Linked DNA regions of Homo sapiens: region 1 is linked to region 2. Evidence: fine-mapped expression QTL. A gene starts in region 2. The other region holds a variant in brackets. All regions are shown on one strand. Distances are from middle to middle.

What was found. PIP is the estimated chance that this variant, and not a neighbour inherited with it, causes the effect.
Region 1: its variant is fine-mapped to the expression of UQCRB in tibial nerve (GTEx, PIP 0.91).

Annotation. Positions count from the first base shown.
Region 1 is chr8:96,442,421-96,452,597 of GRCh38, reverse strand. All of the region lies in intron 3 of LOC105375653 (a long non-coding RNA gene), which reads right to left. Among named protein-coding and RNA genes, the nearest start is that of SDC2, 46 kb to the left of the region's middle. The variant CA/A (reference allele first, on the strand shown) is at 4,951.
Region 2 is chr8:96,231,259-96,241,157 of GRCh38, reverse strand. UQCRB (ubiquinol-cytochrome c reductase binding protein) reads left to right here and starts at 5,613. Exons shown (of 4, transcript NM_006294.5): 1 at 5,613-5,646; 2 at 7,931-8,002; 3 at 9,218-9,384. The coding sequence starts at 5,628. UQCRB-AS1 (UQCRB antisense RNA 1) reads right to left here and starts at 5,865. Exons shown (of 2, transcript NR_183275.1): 1 at 5,597-5,865; 2 at 1,962-3,251. MTERF3 (mitochondrial transcription termination factor 3) reads left to right here. Exons shown (of 8, transcript NM_015942.5): 8 at 1,473-1,756. The coding sequence ends at 1,667. RefSeq lists an enhancer at 5,607-5,886.

The sequences.
Region 1 (10,177 bases), 210 kb before region 2:
GAGGCTCCAGCCAGGCAGGAGCCCATGGTGTTGGGGGTAGGCTCAGGCATGGCGGGCTACAGGTCCGGAGCCCTGCCTCACAGGGAGGCAGCTGAGGCCCGCTGAGAAGTGAGCACAGCTGCTGGCCCAGGTGCTAAGCCCCTCACTGCCCGAGGCTTGCAGGCCGGCCGCTCCGAGTGCTGGGTCCCCCGAGCCCACGCCCACCCGGAACTCTTGCTGGCCAGCAAGCGCCGGGGGCAGTGCCGGGGGCAGTCCCGGTTCCCGCCCGCGCCTCTCCTTCCACACCTCCCTGCAAGCTGAGGGAGTCGGCTCCGGCCTTGGCCAGCCCAGAAAGGGGCTCCCACAGTGCAGCGGCGGACTGAAGGGCTCCTCAAGCGCGGCCAGAGTGGGTGCCAAGGCCGAGGAGGCGCCGAGAGCGAGCGAGGGCTGCGAGGGCTGCCAGCATGCTGTCACCTCTCAATAGCTGTTCTGGGCCCCTGGGCCTACAGCTTATTTACTGCCCGCATGACTGATCCTCAGAAACATCAGTGAATAGTCAGTATACCAATGTTTCAGGTAAGGAATTCGAGAGGCAAAATACTAAGTGGCTAGCCTAAGATAACACAGCTTGAAGAAATTAAAATTGAGACCCAAACCAATTAATTATAGATTATAGATCATAGGTTTAAAAAAAAAAAACCAGTGGGTTTACAAACTAATTTTGGAATTTGGGATCTGTTTCCAAACAACATCTTAATATAATTCCAATATATACATTAGATATGAACAGAGTTGCTGGGATCGAAAGGTGGGATTGGCCTCCAGGACACAATGGCTCTACGTGATAGAGTGTGGAAGTCAGCACCCTGCATTGCACTTTGGCATTGAAGGATGGAGGAATGACCAGTGAGAACACAGCTTCCTCCCATTGTAAGTGGAGTCCATATGATGTGTGTGCTTTATTTCAACAAGTTTTATCACAGTTCAATCCCAGTTTCTTCTGCACACTGAAGTTGAACCCATTTCTCCCATTATTTCTACTCTAATATAGGAAAGAGGAGAATCTTGCATCTTGACAGATCGCCACCTGGTAGACTATTCTGCGATATTCTTACCTGGGTTTACTAGAGAACAAATACAAGATTAATCTTGGGCAATGTCTATGGAAATCCTAAAGTTCTCCTTTTTTTAAGCCATTCTTTACAATCCTCCAAAGGGATGCTTTAGCCAGGAGGCTCAGTGAGGAGCAGAAAGGCTGTGGGCAAAGGTCGCAGGGCAGCCACTGATGTGGCTCTCCTCTGCCTCATCTCCAGTGACTCGTTAACAAGCCAAGTTGCAGTGAAGTGTGCGTGACCTCTGTGGCTTTCTGCCACATTGCCATGTGAGTGGCATCTCAACAGAATAATGTTAAAGAGTAAACTTAAAAAAAATTGCTCTTGTGATTACTTTTAAGTTTCAGGGTTGAAATTTAATCTCTACTAATTCCTGGAGAAGAAAAAACAAGTGGCTTCCACAGTCCCAGCTCCTGGTGTCACTACTCACTGTCCCTCCCCCACCACACACACACACCTTGGGGTATAAGGAGGTGACCATGTATAAACCCCAACAACCCACACTTCAGGAAATATATCAATGCCAGTCTGTTTTATTTCTGTGACTACTGGCAGCCAGAGGGGCTAAATGGTGGCTACTGCAGCATCAGACAGGAAGGCGATAGCTTCATGGGGTGTCTAACCACTTCCAACAATTGTACTAGGTCAAATCCTTCACTGATACGATCTATTTGATTTTTTCCGGAACTTTAAACTTTTATTTCTATGTCTTATCTTTCATAATTTCTATCTCTGCTCAGTTTTGCAGTAGGTAATTTGATCATATCAGTCTTCCAATTTTCTAATTCCTCCTTCAGGGACAAACTGTTTCTAGTATAGTATGTTTAAAAGCATTTACTGTGGGATTACCCCCAAAACAATAACGACTAACTAGTATCTACTCTAACAAAATAAAGCATAGAGGAGTCTTTACTAAACATTGGATTAGTTTCAAAACAGAAAACAAAATTTTTTGTTTCAAGATAGTCAAATAAAATCAATAACAACCTAACAATCAAATGAAATGAATTAACTTTTTTTCCTCTCTTTTTGGGAGACTAGTCAATGCTAGCAAGGGTGTGTGTGAAATAGATATTTTCATATATTTCAGGTGTCAATATAAATTAGTACAATAATTTTAAGAAGCAATTTAAAATATGTATATTAAGAAAGTTTCTTCGGTAGTTAAAGATTATGAAACTTATGTAACAAAGATAATGCTCTGAAAATAACATTACATTTTGTTTGTTTGTTTGTTTTGAGGCGGAGTCTTGCTCTGTCTTCCAGGCTGGAGTGCAGTGGTACTATCTCGGCTCACTGCAACCTCTACCTCCTGGGTTCAAGAGATTCTCCTGCCTCAGCCTCCCGAGTAGCTGGGATTACAGGCGCCCGCCACCAAGTCCAGCTAATTTTTTTTTCTGTATTTTTAATAAAGACAGGGTTTCACCACGTTGGACAGGCTGGGCCTGCCTCAGCCTCCCAAAGTGTTGGGATTACAGGCATGAGCCACTGTTCCCATCCTGGAAATAACATTAAGTTTTAAAACAAAGTATAAATTATATGTGCAGTATGAATTATTACTATGGAACATACATGGAATAAATTGGGAACAGAATTTGGTTTGGGGTGGTAGAATTATAGGGTAATGTTTTTCTTTCTGCTTTTTCTTATTTTAAAATAATAAATTTCATTGTACTGCTTTTTATGAATGTAAAATTTACATAACATAGAATTAAGATTTTTAAACTGTACAATTCAGTGGCATTAAGCACATCCACAATGTTATACAACCATTACCTCTATGTTGTTCTAAAACATTTGATCACTCCAAAAGGAAACCTCATATCCATTAAGAAGTCTCTTCATACTTCCTCTTCTCCAATCCCTGGCAACCACTAATTTGCTTCTGTTTGTACTAATTTACCTATTCTGAATATTTTATGTAAATGGAATCATACCATATGTGACTTTTTGTGTCCAGCTTGTTTCACTTACTTAGTATGTTTCCAAGTTTCACCTATGTAGTAGCAGGTATCAGCACTTCATTCCTTTTTATGGCCAAATGCTATTTCATTGTATACTATACCACATTTTATTTATCCATTCATCCATCCATGGACATTTAGTTTGTTTCCAACCCTTGGCTATGGGAAGTAAATAGTGCTGCTATGAACATTCACGTACAAGTTTTTGTTTGACACCTATTTTCAGTTCTTTTGGGAATATACCTAGAAGTGTTGGTACAGAACTAGAACTAGTTGCTCAGTGAAGGCATATTTATCAATTTTTCTCTCTCAATTTGTGTGCAGCATCTTGGATGTGATGGAAAGCAGAACCATAGAGTAGATTTCTCATCAGCACAGTCCAAAGTGAAAGTGACAGGAAGCGCGTGAGCTCTGGTGAGCAGCCGCGGTTGTCCTGAGGACACCCTAGTCTAGTGTTACTAAAGTGCAGTCCAGGAGGCATCCTGTGAACAACATAGTGCCAATCAGTGGACCGGCATTTTGAGGAGTATGGCTTAGGGCTGGTAAGGTGCTAAGCACTGATAAGAACCTGAGGAGGTTTTGTAATAAGACTAATGGAGATCCAAGAATCCTTGAATTAGGGTTAAGGTAAGAGGGGTCTTTTAGGTCTGTAGGGACATAACAGTAGGCTTCTATTAACCTTGCATGGCAGCCTCAGGCCACATCTGGAGGTGGGGAGGAACAAGAAGTGTCTGTACACCCCTTTTTCCTGGCAGCCCTTCTCCTCTCACCGTTTATGACTCAAGGCTGGCTTGATGGATTGATGGTTACCCAGGCAACAGAGGTTGTATGGCTCTTATCAAAGGTTCTGCTTTGTGTGTGACAATTTAGTCAGGATCACTGGGCTTTGCAATGCTTTTCTGGCACAATTGGGGCTCTCATCTGGAATTTGCTTCCAGTTTCATCACAGAGAGCTGGTCTCAATGTTATGGGTATGGGCTGAATGCACCTCTAACTTCTTTTTTTCCTGCAGGAAGAATAAAATCATAAAAACAGATTACAAATGGAGAAAACAACCCCCTTGATAAAATGGATAGAAACTCATTTACATATTATTTTTTGAATGTCATATGTTTAAGCCCACAGGAGCCCCTGCAAGGATATTGCAAAGATTGCAGCCAGCACACACACACACAAAAAAACTACCTGAGAAATAGTTACTCCTCTTAATGGGAAATGGAGATTAATCCCAATTGGGCATCAAACATCAGCCGAGTGCTCAAAAATTGTAGAGGCAGAAAATGTTGGAGATTATTAATCAAAGTTCTGGCTGGGTCAAAGTGATCTTCCAAGTTGGTGCAGCCAAATATAAACATTTCAACCAAAGGTGAGTAGCCTTTAATGCTTCTCCGTAACGACAGTAAGAGTGCTTTAATTAAATAGGAGAGTGAAGCAAGTAGCTGATGTGAATCTGTTCTTAAGATATTCAATGCAAAGCCCAAGTTTGAGCACTTCTTTCCAAGCTTTCAGTGCCATTCTAGGGTCTGGATTTGGGCTAGTCAACAAGTGTCTGCTGGTAGCTAATACCAGGATTGAAACATCAAAGAAAGGCACCTTAACCTTGAAGTCAGGTCCTGTTCCTTAAGTAAGCGTTAGCCTCAGCATTTGAGTAGTAGAATTTCCAGGGTTAACGTTCTTCCCTTTGAGGCAACTGAGAACTTGGAAAAAAGTGTCCTTCCTGAGCCTTTGGCTCTGCGAGTTTCCTTTAGAACCCCTATGGCCCTTCCAGATTTATCTAGTTATTCCAGTTAGCAAATAGCGTTCAAAACTGATTCATAGTGATCCTGCAGGGGTGAATTGAGAAGGAGTCTAAGGCCGTTTCGGGGCTTAGTAACAGCGTGTGCTACATGCTGCCG[CA/A]GGCCTGGGAAAGGATTTCTACACCTGCCATTTCTGTTTGGCTTAGAGTCCACAGTTGTTTCCCATTACTAGGGCTGTTTCCCTGACCTGAGATCCTATCTTCCCACCCATTGTCCCAGGCCTGCCTAGTTTCTCAGCAGTGGGATGGAGTGGAATGGGTTTTGGTTCAAACTGCCCTGTATTCAAACCCTAGCTCTGTTGCTTATTAGCTGTGTGTCTTTGGTGAGAGAATGAATTGAAATAACACAAGTAAAATATACGGGAGAGGACCTAGGCATGGTAGGTGCTCAATTAATGGTACTCTTTTTTTATAACTCAAGTAGAGCTACTTTTTGGAAGCTATTTCTGGCTCGCTTAGTTCCCATGGCCTCCCGCACACCCTCTCCTATGGACTTGTCCCACTTGACTGTGATCGCCATTTTCATCTCTCTCCCCAACTGGTCTGACTTATTTGTCTTGTTTATCTCCCTGTATCTCCAGCAACCAACACCATGTCTGACACATCTTAATTGTTCAAGAAATGCTGCTTGTTGACAACTTGCTCCTAAGCTACTAGTTCTTACCTATCTGCCTTAACAAGTTAAGATATTATGGCTTGAATGATGAAAAACATCAGTTCATAAGGCTTCCATCAGCAGTGTCAAGGGCAAAGTCAGCCCTAGAAGCAGCCGCTCTTCTCCAATAGAAATGAGCCAACAGCACAGAATGTGAAGAGAGCCCCAGTCATTTCCAAACCATCAAACTACAAAAGAGCTCTTCCAAACCACCATATGGCCGGTGAGGCCAGATGCATCCACTGACAAGCATCATGGTGACACACTGAGCCAGGCTGCTCACTGAGTCACTGGTGGTCAGGAGGTAAGACTTTTGATGCTGCTGGAATCAGGATCCCAGTGGGGTTTAGGGAATGATGCATCTACCCAGCTGCTCTTAGAATTCTCTATTAAGTTCTTAACCCTCCTAAATTAGACCTCAGGAGCTTAAGCTTGGCATTGGGTGACCTTATAAAGAAAGCCATGAAATGGTCTCTGTACCAGACCTCTGTGTGGGGAATTAAGTAGAAAATTTCTTAACATATTTCCTGTTGGTTCAATGCTGTGGCCACCCCTATTGTTTTTCTTTGTTCTGCCTTAGTGCAGAGGGGGTCTTTTAACATAAAATAGGTACATATTTTTCTATGGGAGATGATTGGTTTTAGCATGAAAGAGGCTGGCTTATGTGGTGGGTACTCTACCTAAAGAATTTGAAAACACAGGCAAACAGGACCCCAGTCAGGGAACTATGGAGAGCCCTCCAAGATGACACTCATCAGCTCCACCCCAGGGCAATGACGGTATGAGGCTAGGACCTGGGGAGATGAGTGTTGAGAGGGTGGGATGCCAGGAGGCCAAGGGGAAGTGGTTTCTGTGTGCCACATAATATTGAATCAGTGCTTGCTGAAAAGTGGCCCAAAGGGAAAGTGAAGACATATATATGTATTATATGCATGCAACATATATAGTAGATAATATATATAGTACATACTAGAAATATAATCTATTAGGGGCCACATGTGTTTCTGATAAGCCATAGCTAAGATTAAGTTTTTCTTGAGATAAACTAAGAGGGTTCATCTTTCTGGACTTTGAGGACCACAGTGGCAGGATTACGTGGGCGTATCTCATTTCAAAAGGAAAAAAGGAAGCTCCTGAGCACTAACCTGCCTGGAGAATTCTCCCATTCTCTTATCCATGCCATAACAATCACTTTTACTACAAGTCAGACACGGTTCAATGCTTCCCATGTTTTAACTCACTAATTCTGTAAGTATTATCATTTTATCATTTGTAACTGAGAGGAACTGAGGCACTGAGAAATAAAGTAGCTTAACCAAGTCACGGGAGCTCATGGTGGCAGAGCTGGAATTGTGAGTGTAGGCCCTTGGAGTCTAGAGCCTGTGCCCCTCACCGCTAGGCCGTACAGCCTTTCCTCAGCCATCGAGAGCCTCTTCCACACACCTCCTTTAATCCTGACCCGCCTCTTGCTTCCTGCGGCTGCTCCCTTCTGTGATCCCAAACTGTGCATAGGGGGCTGGGCAGTGGCCCTCCTGTTACTTGGAGTATCTATTACTCACTTCTGGGCTAGTCTATGAGATAGGAGCATGAACCTCATCTCTTAATCATTTTTTAATTCCTTGGTGTCCCATTTGATAAAATGCACAAAGCTAGTACCGACAAATGTTTGACAGATGAAATGAATGAGTAAGTGAATAAACTTAGGAATACGGGAGAAAACTGGGGTCATATGTGCATCATCAGACCTGGTAACAATAGCCATTAATATTTATTGATGGTTTGCTATGCTCCAGGCAGTATGCTGAGGACTTTGCATGCGTTATCCATTTAGTCATTAGCATGACTCTCTGGGACAGGTTCTGCTTCTATCCGCATTTTACATTTCAGGAAAACAAGGCTCCAATAGATGGACTTACTCAAGTTCTCACAGCTAGTGATCTGCAGAGCTAGTATCCCAACTCACATCTATCTGATGCCAAAACCTATGATCTTAAATCTCCACAACCTTTTACTGTGTTCAGATCCCTGGCCTGATAGTCTAACCTTGCATACTTGGTCATGGCAATCTAGCAGAGGCTTTCAAAGCTACATTTTTAAAGTCCTACCATCTTTGCTGTGGATCTCCCTAAAACAATGCTGTCTGTGGTTGTCTTGAAAATCCCTGTTTTTCTTATTGGTGTTAAACCTAGCTACTGGTCATCACATTGGTATTACCACTGCCTAATTTGTAATGGACCCTTGCTATGTACAGGGCTAGATTCTCTTAGTATTTTAATGCATTTAATTCTGTCAACAGCCATATGAGGAAAGTACTTTTATTAAATTCATTTTATGAATGAGGAGGACACTGAGGCCCAGAGAATCAAATTAACTTGCCCAAAGTTCCACTATAAGTAAGGGACAGGCTGGTGTTTAGTTCCAAGCAGCCTGGTTGCAGAGCCTGCATTCTCAGCTGCTGTGCTAACCTGACTCAGCAGCAGGATTGGGTGGTTTCACATCCCTGCCTGTGGTTGCAGTTCTTTAATTCGCTTGGGATCTTCAAAGGCCAAGGCTATGGGCTTGATCTCTGATAGCACTAGTCTGTGCCTTAATCCTGGCCAGATGTCCTGCAAATATCTCATAGATCTAGGACCTTGGTTACCAAGGAGACCAGGTGGGAGAATGGGGATGAATTAGTGCCAGTCAACCAGTTCTGTAGGGAAAACTGTGCTGCTGACAATAGGTCAGAACTAGCTTCCCCATATCATTAAAATACTCACTGAAAACATGTTAGTCAACAAATCTGCCTTACTTACATGCCCAAATGCTAAACCTGTCCCCAACTGGCTTTACGTGCACAGAATGTTGGCTCTCACATCCATGATTCGTTGAAAAGGTCAAATTCCACTCTGGCTGTTTCATCAGAAGGGTAAATACTGTGTGTTAGATATTTGATGTGCATAGACTAAGAGCATTTTCCAGTGAAAGCTTCAGAGGTTTGTGGGCAGAGCCAGAGTCACAGGGGATGTTAGAGCTGCCAGGAGTTTTAGGGAATCAAAGTCCAGCCCCCAAAACCCCTGTTTTACAGATAAGGGAGGCCAGATTGCCCCTGCATGCTTGCAGCTAGTGATGGCAGAACCAGGACTAGACCTCCCATCTGCCATGAACTGGCTGATGGAGATTGTCAAATTATGTTATCAAAACTCTTTAGAGATTTATCTGGCTTCATTGGCAAAGGTTGGGAATTGAAAGTGGATATTCCATCATTTGAGAAGGAGGAAGGATGTGCTATTAGGGCGTTAGCATCTCTCTATAGTCCAATTGAAATGAAAAATTAATCGACTTTCTGGCCAATTCAATCAATCAAGGTAGTCAATGGGAAGTTATTTCCTCAAATACTCAGGTTCCATGTTTGAATTAACTGCTGTCTGTATGTTAATTCTATGTAACTGCTCTATGTATTTCACTGTTTCTATTAATAAAATAATATTGAAGTCTTTTTTTAAAATCTTGACTAATAGGAAAATTATCATACTATCTAATAGATCTTATAAATCCTTTGTCTTTCACAAATCTTTGCATGAAAAACAAGTCTGTCACTTCAAAAATAATTTGTCATATAGGGTTTCCATTTGGAATGATGAAAACTTCTGGAAGAAGACAGGAATGATGGTGGCACAACATCACAACTGAACTTAATGGCACCAAATTGTATACTTTAAAATGGATAAAATGGTAAATTTTGTGGTATTATTCCATAATAAAGTAATTTATAAAGAAGCCCAATTATTGGGAATAGAAAAAATCAATTCAGTGACAAATAATATATTTCATTGATTTGTCCAATAAATATATATGGAGTACCTGCTATGGGTCAAGTACTTATTTGAAAAATGTTTGAAAGTTGAGTACTTGCTAACTGTAAGGTGTTACACAAATATGTTTGTGGATAACTGTGAGTGTGCTTGTGGGGCAAGTGCTGGTTACTTACCCTTCACACCCTTCACTCTTGTGGATTCACTCTTTACTCTTTTCCACATTGCTTTGTATTTTGGAAGTCTCTCCTGAATGGACTGCAGCAACAGTTTCCCTTACCAACCTGGCCTCCTGTTAGGTTTGGCCAGTGGTGGGGTGGCAGCGGGTGGGGGGATGCCAGGAGAAGAAGAGGGAGAGGGAGGAGTGTGAGGTTTGCATATATTCCTTCAACTCCTTTCCTGCTGGTTCATTGTAAATTTGTTGCATCCCTCTACCACAGGGGCCCTGTCCCAGAAATCCAAAAGTATTCAAAATAGAACTAAGTTTCAAGATCTTCTACTTTAAGGTTGCTTCTGAGTTTTCTTTTTCTTTATGGCTCATGTTTTAAAAGATGACCACATTTTCAAATGGGTTAACATTTTCTAAAAAGTCCATTTTAGAAAAAAATGGAGTTCCAATTAACAGAGTTTTGAATTATCCAATATATTTTATTATAAAACAAGAAAGCACCATTTCAACTAGGGAGCACTGATTGCTTAAAACTACACTCTTTTGAATAAACCCATATTAGTTTAATGAAGTTTTCCTGTGATTAGTATAATCTACTGCAATTGTATTCAAACCCCAAATTATGGGTATTATATGCCCGAAATACAGCACTGGTTAAAGGCAATTAGTTTAATCACTTTCCTGATGGGAAATGAGACAGGGACACCAC
Region 2 (9,899 bases):
TTACAGGTGTGAGCCACCGCGCCCGGCCGGGTGATAGTTTTTTAAGCCAAGAATCACTGCATAGGAGTCATACTTCTAAAAAAAAATCTATCTAAAACCTCTTACATCTTCGTTATCCATAATATTGTGATCATGGGAATTTAGTTATCAGAACAAGGGCAGAATAGCAGAGACTGAGAAGGGAGATGTTCTGTTCCAAAAGCAAGCCAAACCCATGTTGAGGTACACCCTGTGCTTTTTTTAGTCACTCTTCTCATAGTACTTTGGTTTTCAACAATTGCTTTTCATAGTGTCCTTTCCAACTGATCTGTTACTGTTTCCACTTGAATATAGGGAAAGAGGCCTAGGGGTTATGTGAACGCATCCCGTGTTCACATTATATCTGTAACAGCCAAGAGGAGAGCTTGAGGCAGGCATAATATTGAAAGGGCTTCCTCTGAGCCTCATCGGGGAACCTCACAGGTCTCTCAGGCTTCAGGGCTGTAGCTCAAGTCTGGCCGGATCTCCCATTTGTCTCTTCTTTCTGTAGCTGGCTGTAGAGCCTTGCCTGCTTCTGACTCCTTTCTAAAGTTGCTGCCGCTTACTCTAGTTTTTAGGAGTTTTACTTTGAGGCAGGTAAGACATACTTTCCCTAGTTGCTCTCCCAGAGGTCAGATTCATTTCATTTTGATTCTAGTTAAGGGGAGGAGTGCAAATTTTAAAAAAGGGAGAGAGAGAGGTGTTACAGATTATGAAATCTTATACATTTTTATATAATAACATCTTAATCTCTAACATTGGTTCTCAAACTTGGTAGATATCAGAATCATCTAGAGGGCTTGTTAAGACAGATTTCTGGGTTCTGCTCTCAAAGTTGCTGATTAAGTAGTTTTGGGGTGAGGCTTGAGGATTTGCCTTTTTTTTTTTTTTTGAGATGGAGTCTTACTCTGTTGCCCAGGCTGGAGTGCAGTGGCGCGATCTCGGCTCACTGCAACCTCCGTCTCCTGGGTTCAACCAATTCTCCTGCCTCAGCCTCCTGAGTAGCTGGGATTACAGGCATGCGCCACCACGCCCAGCTAATTTTTGTATGTTTAGTAGAGACAGGGTTTTGCCATGTTGGCCAGGCTTGTCTTGAATTCCTGACCTCAGATGATCCGCCTGCCTCAGCCTCACTAAAGGCGTGAGCCACCACGCCCGGCCGAAGATTTGCTTTTTTAACACATTCTCCTCTGTCTCTGGAGCACTCAATCTTCTTTGCACACAGTATAGCCCTGAATTATTTTATTATTGTTTTGTATGTTGATTTTGAATCCCTTTTTCTAGTTTCTTCACAGAAAATATAGGATTTAAATCCTCTGGCATTTATCCTACTTACTGAACACATGGTCAGTACTTGGTATTGGTTAACCTATTAAAATTTTTGCCAAGTAAACTTTTTAATATTTCATCCTCCCGTGTGCAGTGTTTTTTAAAAACTTTTTTTTCTTTTCTAGGTATTTAATACAAGGCTGTTTAAGGTCAAAGAAAGACACTTGTTTCTTACCTATTTAGGAAGAGCACAGTATGATCCAGCAAAACCTAACTACATCTCTTTGGACAAACTAGTATCTATTCCTGATGAAATATTTTGTGAAGAGATTGCCAAAGCATCAGTACAGGACTTTGAAAAATTCTTAAAAACGCTTTAGATTTTTATGTATGTTAAAATGCAGTATTGTAAAGTGAATATATATATGAATAAATGAATATATTTTTAAATGCCTCGGGTCTCAACTGATATTGGAAACCATTTGATACTGTAAATTTGGGTACATATACTGTGGTAGAACTTTCATCAAGTTCCTAGTGACTTAATTCTTGTTTGACTTTTTCCTTCCTTCTTAGGAAATACAGCAAGCTCAGAGAAGGGGAAAGAGTTGGTTTACTTTAAGTTGGTGCTTTGTCATTCTCGTGAAGATGAAAACAGTGGAGGATTTTTAAAGTGGTTTCATTATAAAATGGCTTTATTTCCTTTGAACTGTTACGAGTTTCCAGAGCATACTACATTAGTCATCTAATATCTACTGCTCAGATAATGCTACAAAACACACTTCATTTTGGATTATCTACATTGTTAACTTCTTGAACACAGATATTCACAGTTGGCTAAGAATAAGGAAAAGGAAAGTGGAGTTTAAAGATTAGGGGCAATGAGATATAGTGAAAGGCTTAACTAGCCTTTGACTTATTACCAGTAAACAAATATTTGTTTTCCATTTACAACATGTGTTATCCTGGGCAAGTGATTTCATTTCTGAGCCTTTGCTTTTTTATTTGTAAAACGAAGCATCATGACTTCAGTTGTCTGCCTTATGATCACCAGATTGGGTAGACTGTTAACACTGGGGGCCCCCATGAACCATACCTGGTATTTGCACTCTTGTGTAGTTAGTCCTCTCCCACACTGACTCTGGGCCGATGTGATTTGGCCCAGAGGACATTTGTCAAGCAGAGGCTTAAGGATTTGCACATCAGGGCTTGCCCTCTTGGAACATTTGCTCTTGGCACCCTAAGCTACTGTGTAGAGAGGTCTGGTTACTCTGCTGGAGAAACTAGGTGGACAGAAAGATGTCTGGCCAAACCCAGCTTTTTCAGACATGCCAACTGAGCACCAGACATGCATGAAGAAATTATCTGGGATGTCCCAGACTTAGTAGATACTACACTAAGCAGAACGACCCAGCGGAATTCAGAATTGGGAGAAAGTGTTTTAAGCCGCTAACTTTGGGGGTAGTTTGTTGTGCACAGGGTTCTGTGGTGTGCTGGATGCCCTTTAAAAAACCTCATGAAAAACTAAATTTGTAATTGGTCAGGGCCAGGTATAGTGGCCTTCCTGTTACATATTTTATTCATGCAACCGACATTTGAGTTCTATAATACAGTGGTGAGTGTGGCATAGATATGTGCTTTCATGGAGTTCTCCAATGGATGAGATCAATAAACAGGAAACAATAAAAAATAAGCTGGGGACACCATGGAACCATCCTGTCCTCTCTTTCTGTGGCTCACAACCTCATTTTGCCTTTATGAATAACCCAGTGAACAACCTTAGCAGTCAGAATAGGCAAGTTGTGTTGATACAATGAACAATCCTAAAACCTCAAATGATTGAAAAACCACAAAAGTTTTTATCTTATACATGTTTCTTAGGACCACAAAGGCTCTGCTCCACATCATCTTCAGTGATACAGGTTGATGTATCCTGTCTCCATCATTTCTGGAGTGTTGCCAGTCTATGGAAAAGGAAAGGAATGTGAAGAATTGCTCTTAAAAAGTTATCACATTTTTCTTGGCCAAAGTATCACATGGCCATGCCTAACTTTAATAGGGCAGAGAGGCAATCCCTAATCCTGTGCTGGGAGGAAAGAAAACCAAAAATAGTTTTTGAATCAACAATCACTACCAGCAAACATTCAGTCTCTCTAGCTTAATTCCTTAGGAGCTGGATTTTGTGACAATTTTGGGTTTCAGATCTTTTGATATGTCTTTTCTTGCCACCTTCACCTGTAACCAGCAAGCTAAAACTTAAAGGGTGGAAGGGAGGAGAGTTTATTGAGTACCTACCCTCTGCAGGGCAATGTGCCAATGTACAAATGTACTGCATTTCTTCACATCTTTCAGACTTCACTTTGGCTAGTGTAAGATAGATCATTCATCAGCTTTAGTGCTGTATACAGGACTGACTAATGAAGAAATTGTGACAGCATGGAGATAGAAGAAAAAGGAAAATCAATATAATTTTAGAACTGGAATGTGACTAAGATCGTTAAATCTAACCTTTTGAACTTAGGATGAGACAAGGTTCTACTCTATATTGTCCCAGCTCTGAGCTTAAAACTGAGGGGAAAAAAAAGATATCACTGAGTAATGGTAGAAGTTCACCAGTAACTATCAGTCATGCTAGCTCCCCCTAATTGTTTTCTGTCTCTAGATGTTTATGCCTAAGACTTCGCATGTTGGGGTTGAGACCTTAAAAGTGAGAAAATCTATATACTTCTCTTTTGTCTTAAAATTGTGTGCAAATTCTGCAATACATCTTAGATTTAATCTTTAAAAACCTTTTCTGCTGGGCATGATGGCTCACGCGGGTAACCCAGCATTTTGGGAGGCTGACGTGGGTGGATCACTTGAGGTCAAGAGTTTGATACCAGCCTGGCCAACACGGTGAAACCCCGTCTCTACTAAAAATACAAAAATTAGCGGGCATGGTAGTGTGTACACCTGTAGTCCCAGCTACTCAGGAGGCTGAGGCACGAGTCATTTGAACCCAGGAGGCAGAGGTTGCAGTGAGCCGAGATTGTGCCATTCAGCCTGGGTGACAGAGGCTGAACAACAAAAAAAAGGGTGAAAAAAAACAAACAAAAAAAACCCAAAACCTTTTCTGACCTAACCTTCCACTAAAATAGCTAGATATAGATCTTCAGCTGGAGAAACCCAAGGCCTGAAAGGCTTGGTGTCTTTCCTGGATTAGTAGTGTAGCAGTATAGCATATGACCCTAGAATTAAGGAGCCCCAAATTTGCATCTGGATTTTCAGATTCTGGAAGAAGAACCTGGACTCTTCTAGTCATGTGCTCTTGGACAAGTTATTCAACCTTTCTGAGCCTCAGCTTTCTCCTCTCTACAATGAGATAATTACAGTACTTTTAGAATTAAAAGATAGTTTAGGGGAGTGAGAGATCACCTCCAACCCTCCCTCCCCTTTGCTCTTATGTGGGCTCTTTGGTTGAATCTAGGAACCAAATTGACACATGGCAGATTAACAAGAGAAAAGCATACTAATTTTACTAGTTTTACATGTACATGGGGATCCGCACAAAAGAGTGAAGTGGCCAATGTAAGATGCCTTTATACTTTTTACACGAACTACAAATCAGAAGAAAGGGGATCTGGCTAGGGGCAGTAAATTTCTCGCGGAGTCATTAGGAGAAAAGTGTGTGTGTTGGGGTGTAAACTTAGTGGAAGATAACGGTTACTTCGGAAAGTATATTCAGGTCCAAAGCAGCCCCCAGTTTCGTCTCTGGTGATAGGTGCTATTTTCTCCCTCTGGTAAGGGACGGGTACTCCAGAGGAATCCTGGAGGAAGCTTTATGGCTTGCTGCATGCAGGAAGAGATAGGTCATCAAACCTTTTCTGAAACTACAATTTCTCCAATATTTTCAACTCGAAATAATCAATGTACCAATTCCATATATTTTTGGGATGGCACATCCATCAGTCCTTCAATAGAAAGTAAGACGATGCCCTTAAAACATTTAGCTTCCTGCCTGGCACAAAGAGCTGAATTAATACTGTCCACGCTCCCATAGCTATTAACAGCAAATAACAGAACCCAGCTTTAAGCCTTGGTCTCCTAATTCCTGACCTGTGTTCTTCCCATCACATCACAACCAATACTTCTTAGAATGTAGCACGCAAAATGCCCCGCCTACTCCATTGGCCTCACCCTGGCCGAGAGGTGCTTACGCAGGTGCTGAACGGCAGTCGTCAGAACTGCGCCTGCGCAAGCGGCCTTTCTCTGTTCGCGATGTGACGTAACGCGCCTGCGGACTGGGCCCAGCTTGTCCTCTATGACTTACCCAGAAGGCAACGCTTCTCTTTCTGGTCAAAATGGCTGGTAAGCAGGCCGGTAAGTAACTGGGGGTCTTCTTGGCCGGCATCGTCGCGCTTCACCGTTTATTTTTGCTGCAGCTTGCTCCGTTTTCTCTCTTCTTTGTAAGTGGCCAAGTTTGTCGCGGAAGGGAAATTGGCTGCTTCAGTCCAGTGAAAAGGATGTGCTTCCCCACTCGTTTGCTGTCCCCAGGGCGGGCTTGCCTGTATAGGGTTGGGATGTTAACCCGCTGTTTGTGAAGGTGCCCGCGGTGGCTCTGACAGCCCTGGAGTTCCAGCTGCCCGTGCTTGGAAGTCCTTCCCCTTGGCCTTAGAAAAGTTAAAGGGCACAAGAGGATAACTAGTGGATGACTTTCAACCCGAATGAGCTCAGTGCTTTCTATGACCCAAGTGCTCTATCGTGTGCATTGGCCCTATAAATTTTCTTGCCATTGCGACGAGGGAGATATTAATTTCCCTTTTACGCTGATAAGATAACTGAGGCAAAGTGACCCAAGGAAGTAGAATTGGAAATATCATTGCACCCCTCGCGCTTCTCAAACTGCGAATCAGAGACAGTTGAGCAAGGGATACGAGCGACGCTTCAGGTTGACCTTGGATTATCTAGAGCGTCAGCTTGATCAGTAGGTTTGGAGAAATTTGAATTTATTGTAGGTTCTTTTTTTCTTTTTTCTTTCTTTTTTTTTTTTTTTGCTAATCTCTGCCCTCTGGCGGTACAAGTTGGAGTAGCCGTTTTGTTTGTTTGTTTGTTTTGTCTTTGAGACGGAGTCTTGCTTTGTCGCCCAGGCTGGAGTGCAATGGCACAATCTCGTCTCACTGCAATGCAACCAAGTTGGAGTAGCTTAAAAAATGTTGATCCTTTTCTCCCCGCCCCCAGCAATTGTGAAGCTGTTAGGAAACATCAGGTTGCCAGAAACATCCGTTAACCTAATTGACATTGAGCTTTTTGGGGGTGGGGGAGACTTTTTAAATAATTATTTTATTAATTTGGCAGATATTGAAGGAGTCTTACTAAATTCAAGACACTGCTTCTGTGCGTGTTTGGGAACTACATAGACCAGATCTCAACTCCCATTAGCTAACTCTGACCTTGGGTGGGATCACTTCTGTAAGCCAGCTTCCCCTTCTGTAGTAACAGACATGTAAATAAATCAGCTAATGTTGGTAAAGCAAATAGGAAAGTGTTTGGTGCACAATAAGTGCTTAGTGAATATTATTATAGTCACTGATAGGTGGTTGAATATAATCTGTCTTCCACAAGTATGTTTGTAGATTGTTGACTGATACTTGTTTTTCTAGCAGCAGTTTTATACATGACTCTTAATTTCCAAGGAGATTTGCTAAAGCCACGTAATCTGTAGTGCACTGAGTTTGCAAGCAAGGAGAGTTGAGTGAAAGGAGAGTTTGCTTTCCTTCCTTGGTAAGGGCTAACCCTAGACAAAATTTTAAAAGAGAATACAAACCTGTTCTACCTCTCCTTTTGTAAAATGTCTCTCCTAAAATGTCAGATACGGTCCTGCTGTACTTGGACCCTGCTGGGTTACTTCATCAGGCTCAGCCCTGTTCCCCAAACAGTTTTAAAATTACCTATTTCTCATCCTTTTTCAATATCCATTCCCTTGGGGGGAACTTAGTTGCTTAGGAGGAGGTAAATGGACTTCTTTTACGAATCCATATTAATGTTTAAATGACTAATGGTATCAAAATCCTCCCCAAAATACATACATTTTTAAAGAATGTGGCCAAATGAAATAACTGTAATATCGAGTAAAAATTTTAGAGGATGAGGGTCATTTAGACCTGCCAGTCTATGCTGAAATCTCACTGTCTTTTCCCTACAACTCCAGCTCTCTTGAAATGAAAAGTTTACAATTATTTCCTGTGATCTATTTATGAAACTACAAATGATGGAAATTTCCAAGTCCTTTTCCTATCTCCCACCCCTTCATTTCTGAAGGTAACAGGGCAGGCATAAGGGCACACGATGTACCTATGGATCTTTTGTACATTCAGTGTTTGAGTTTACCCTTTTCTTTCATGACTTGCCACCATTTTCCTGCAACCACTTTTGCTCATAAATAAAATAAGCACTTTTTATCAACATTTTATAGAGTATAAACTTTTTTCTTTTAAATCTAATTCTTTTGATTAAATTCTTGCTGTATATACTATATACTTTTAAAAGGAAATTTATTTCTATGTTTGCATTCATCAGCAAGATAACTGAGTACTGGTTGCTTGCCTATCAATGTGTTCATATAGTATAATTAAATTGTAGCAATTAACAGTGTGACAATTATCAGTTTCAGCATCAGGCAAGTGGCTGGATGGTATTCGAAAATGGTATTACAATGCTGCAGGATTCAATAAACTGGGTAAGCAGCTGTGCTGTTTAATGTTTTTTGTTGTTGTTGTTGTTTCTTTGTTTTTTTTTTTGTTTTTCTGAGAGTATTGCTTTTGCAAGTGTTACTGTGGTTCCAAAAACCATTTCAGTTCTTGTATACATCAGAAGATTTTAAAATTAAATCACATTATGTTAAATCCAGTTCCTTTTTAAAGTTTTTTTGAGAGAAGAGGGATGAAAGCCTCTAAAATGTTCGACTTGGTAATGATTTAAGTAGTAAGACATTTTCCTTCTACACCCCCTTTCCCAACTCTTCCACTTAAAATTTTATTTATTTATTTATTTATTTATTTGAGACAGAGTCTTGCTCTGTCACCAGGCTGGAGTGCAGTGGCGCAATCACGGTTCACTGCAACCTCCGCCTCCCGAGTTCAAGTGATTCTCCTGCCTCAGCCTCCTGAGTAGCTGGGATTACAGGCGTGTGCCACCACGCCTGGCTAATTTTTTTTGTATGTAGTAGAGACGGGGTTTCACCATATTAGGCTGGTCGCAAACTCCTGACCTCAGGTGATCCACCTGCCTCGGCCTCCCAAAGTGCTGGGATTATAGGTGTGCACTACTGCGCCCGGCCTTCCACTTAAAATTTTAATTTAAATTATATAAACATTGAAAGTAGAGAGTTTTTGAATATTAAAATTTTATCACGTCCATGCAATCATATGATTCCTAAGCTTTTTTAGAACTTTGTAATTTACCATGAACTTCATCTTTTACTATTGAAGCTTGAAGAAAGTGTAAGCAAAAGTCACTGTTCCTTAGTATACTATCATTTTAAGATTCTTTAATACCTTGATCTCAGATTTAAACTATGAGAAAAAAGAGATGTGGTTTATTAATGTGTGTTTAAAAACAAAGTAAACATTTAAAATATTTTGTAAATGGTTTAGATAAAATATGAATTTTGTGGCATTGGATTTTAAGAGGCTCATATATTGTTTCCATAGTCTAGTTCAAGAAGTAACCCATTATATCAAGTAATAACTCATTACTTTTAATGGCAAAACTGCAATTACTTTTGCACCAACCTATAATGTATGAAATGCATTGAATTTCCATTGAACCTAGTGATTTGAATTCGATAGTTCACCAAAAGTTGTAAGTTATAAGTCATAAAGGTATTTTACTAATTTAAAAAAACCGCGATTTTTGAGATGCATGTGCAATCTAACTTTGTCATCTATCATAGGGTTAATGCGAGATGATACAATATACGAGGATGAAGATGTAAAAGAAGCCATAAGAAGACTTCCTGAGAACCTTTATAATGACAGGATGTTTCGCATTAAGAGGGCACTGGACCTGAACTTGAAGCATCAGATCTTGCCTAAAGAGCAGTGGACCAAATATGAAGAGGTAGCACAGCTTTATCTACCTGACAGTGTTGCTCATTAAGGATGGAGTTTTAGAAACAAGAGAAACATGTTCATTTGCATAGTGTTAGAGTTCTCTGAGTCATGTCAAATAAATATGTGAGGTTAATAAAGCAAATGTTATTTCCGTTTTAGAAGAAAACCACATTGAGTCTTACGTGTGAAATGATTCTTCTGAAATTACTAAGCAAGTCTCTAATATAGAGAGCCAGGACTAAAATCCAGGTCTGTTGCCTCCCAGGTCTTTGCTGTTCCAGCTCTGCACTCTGCTTCCTACTTAGATGAAAAGATCAGCCCATTGAGTGTCCCTCCAGATCCCAAGAAGAGCTTCTGTGAAGCAAACTCTCACCCCTTGAACTGCATTGAAACTAGGCAAAGGCCTGTGGACATTCATTTCTTTTTCTTCCCGAAAAGACTTCCCCCTCATAACCTATCAAAGCAACTTATCACACCATCACCACAGATTTGACATTTTAAAAAGCAGATAGTTCTTAGGTT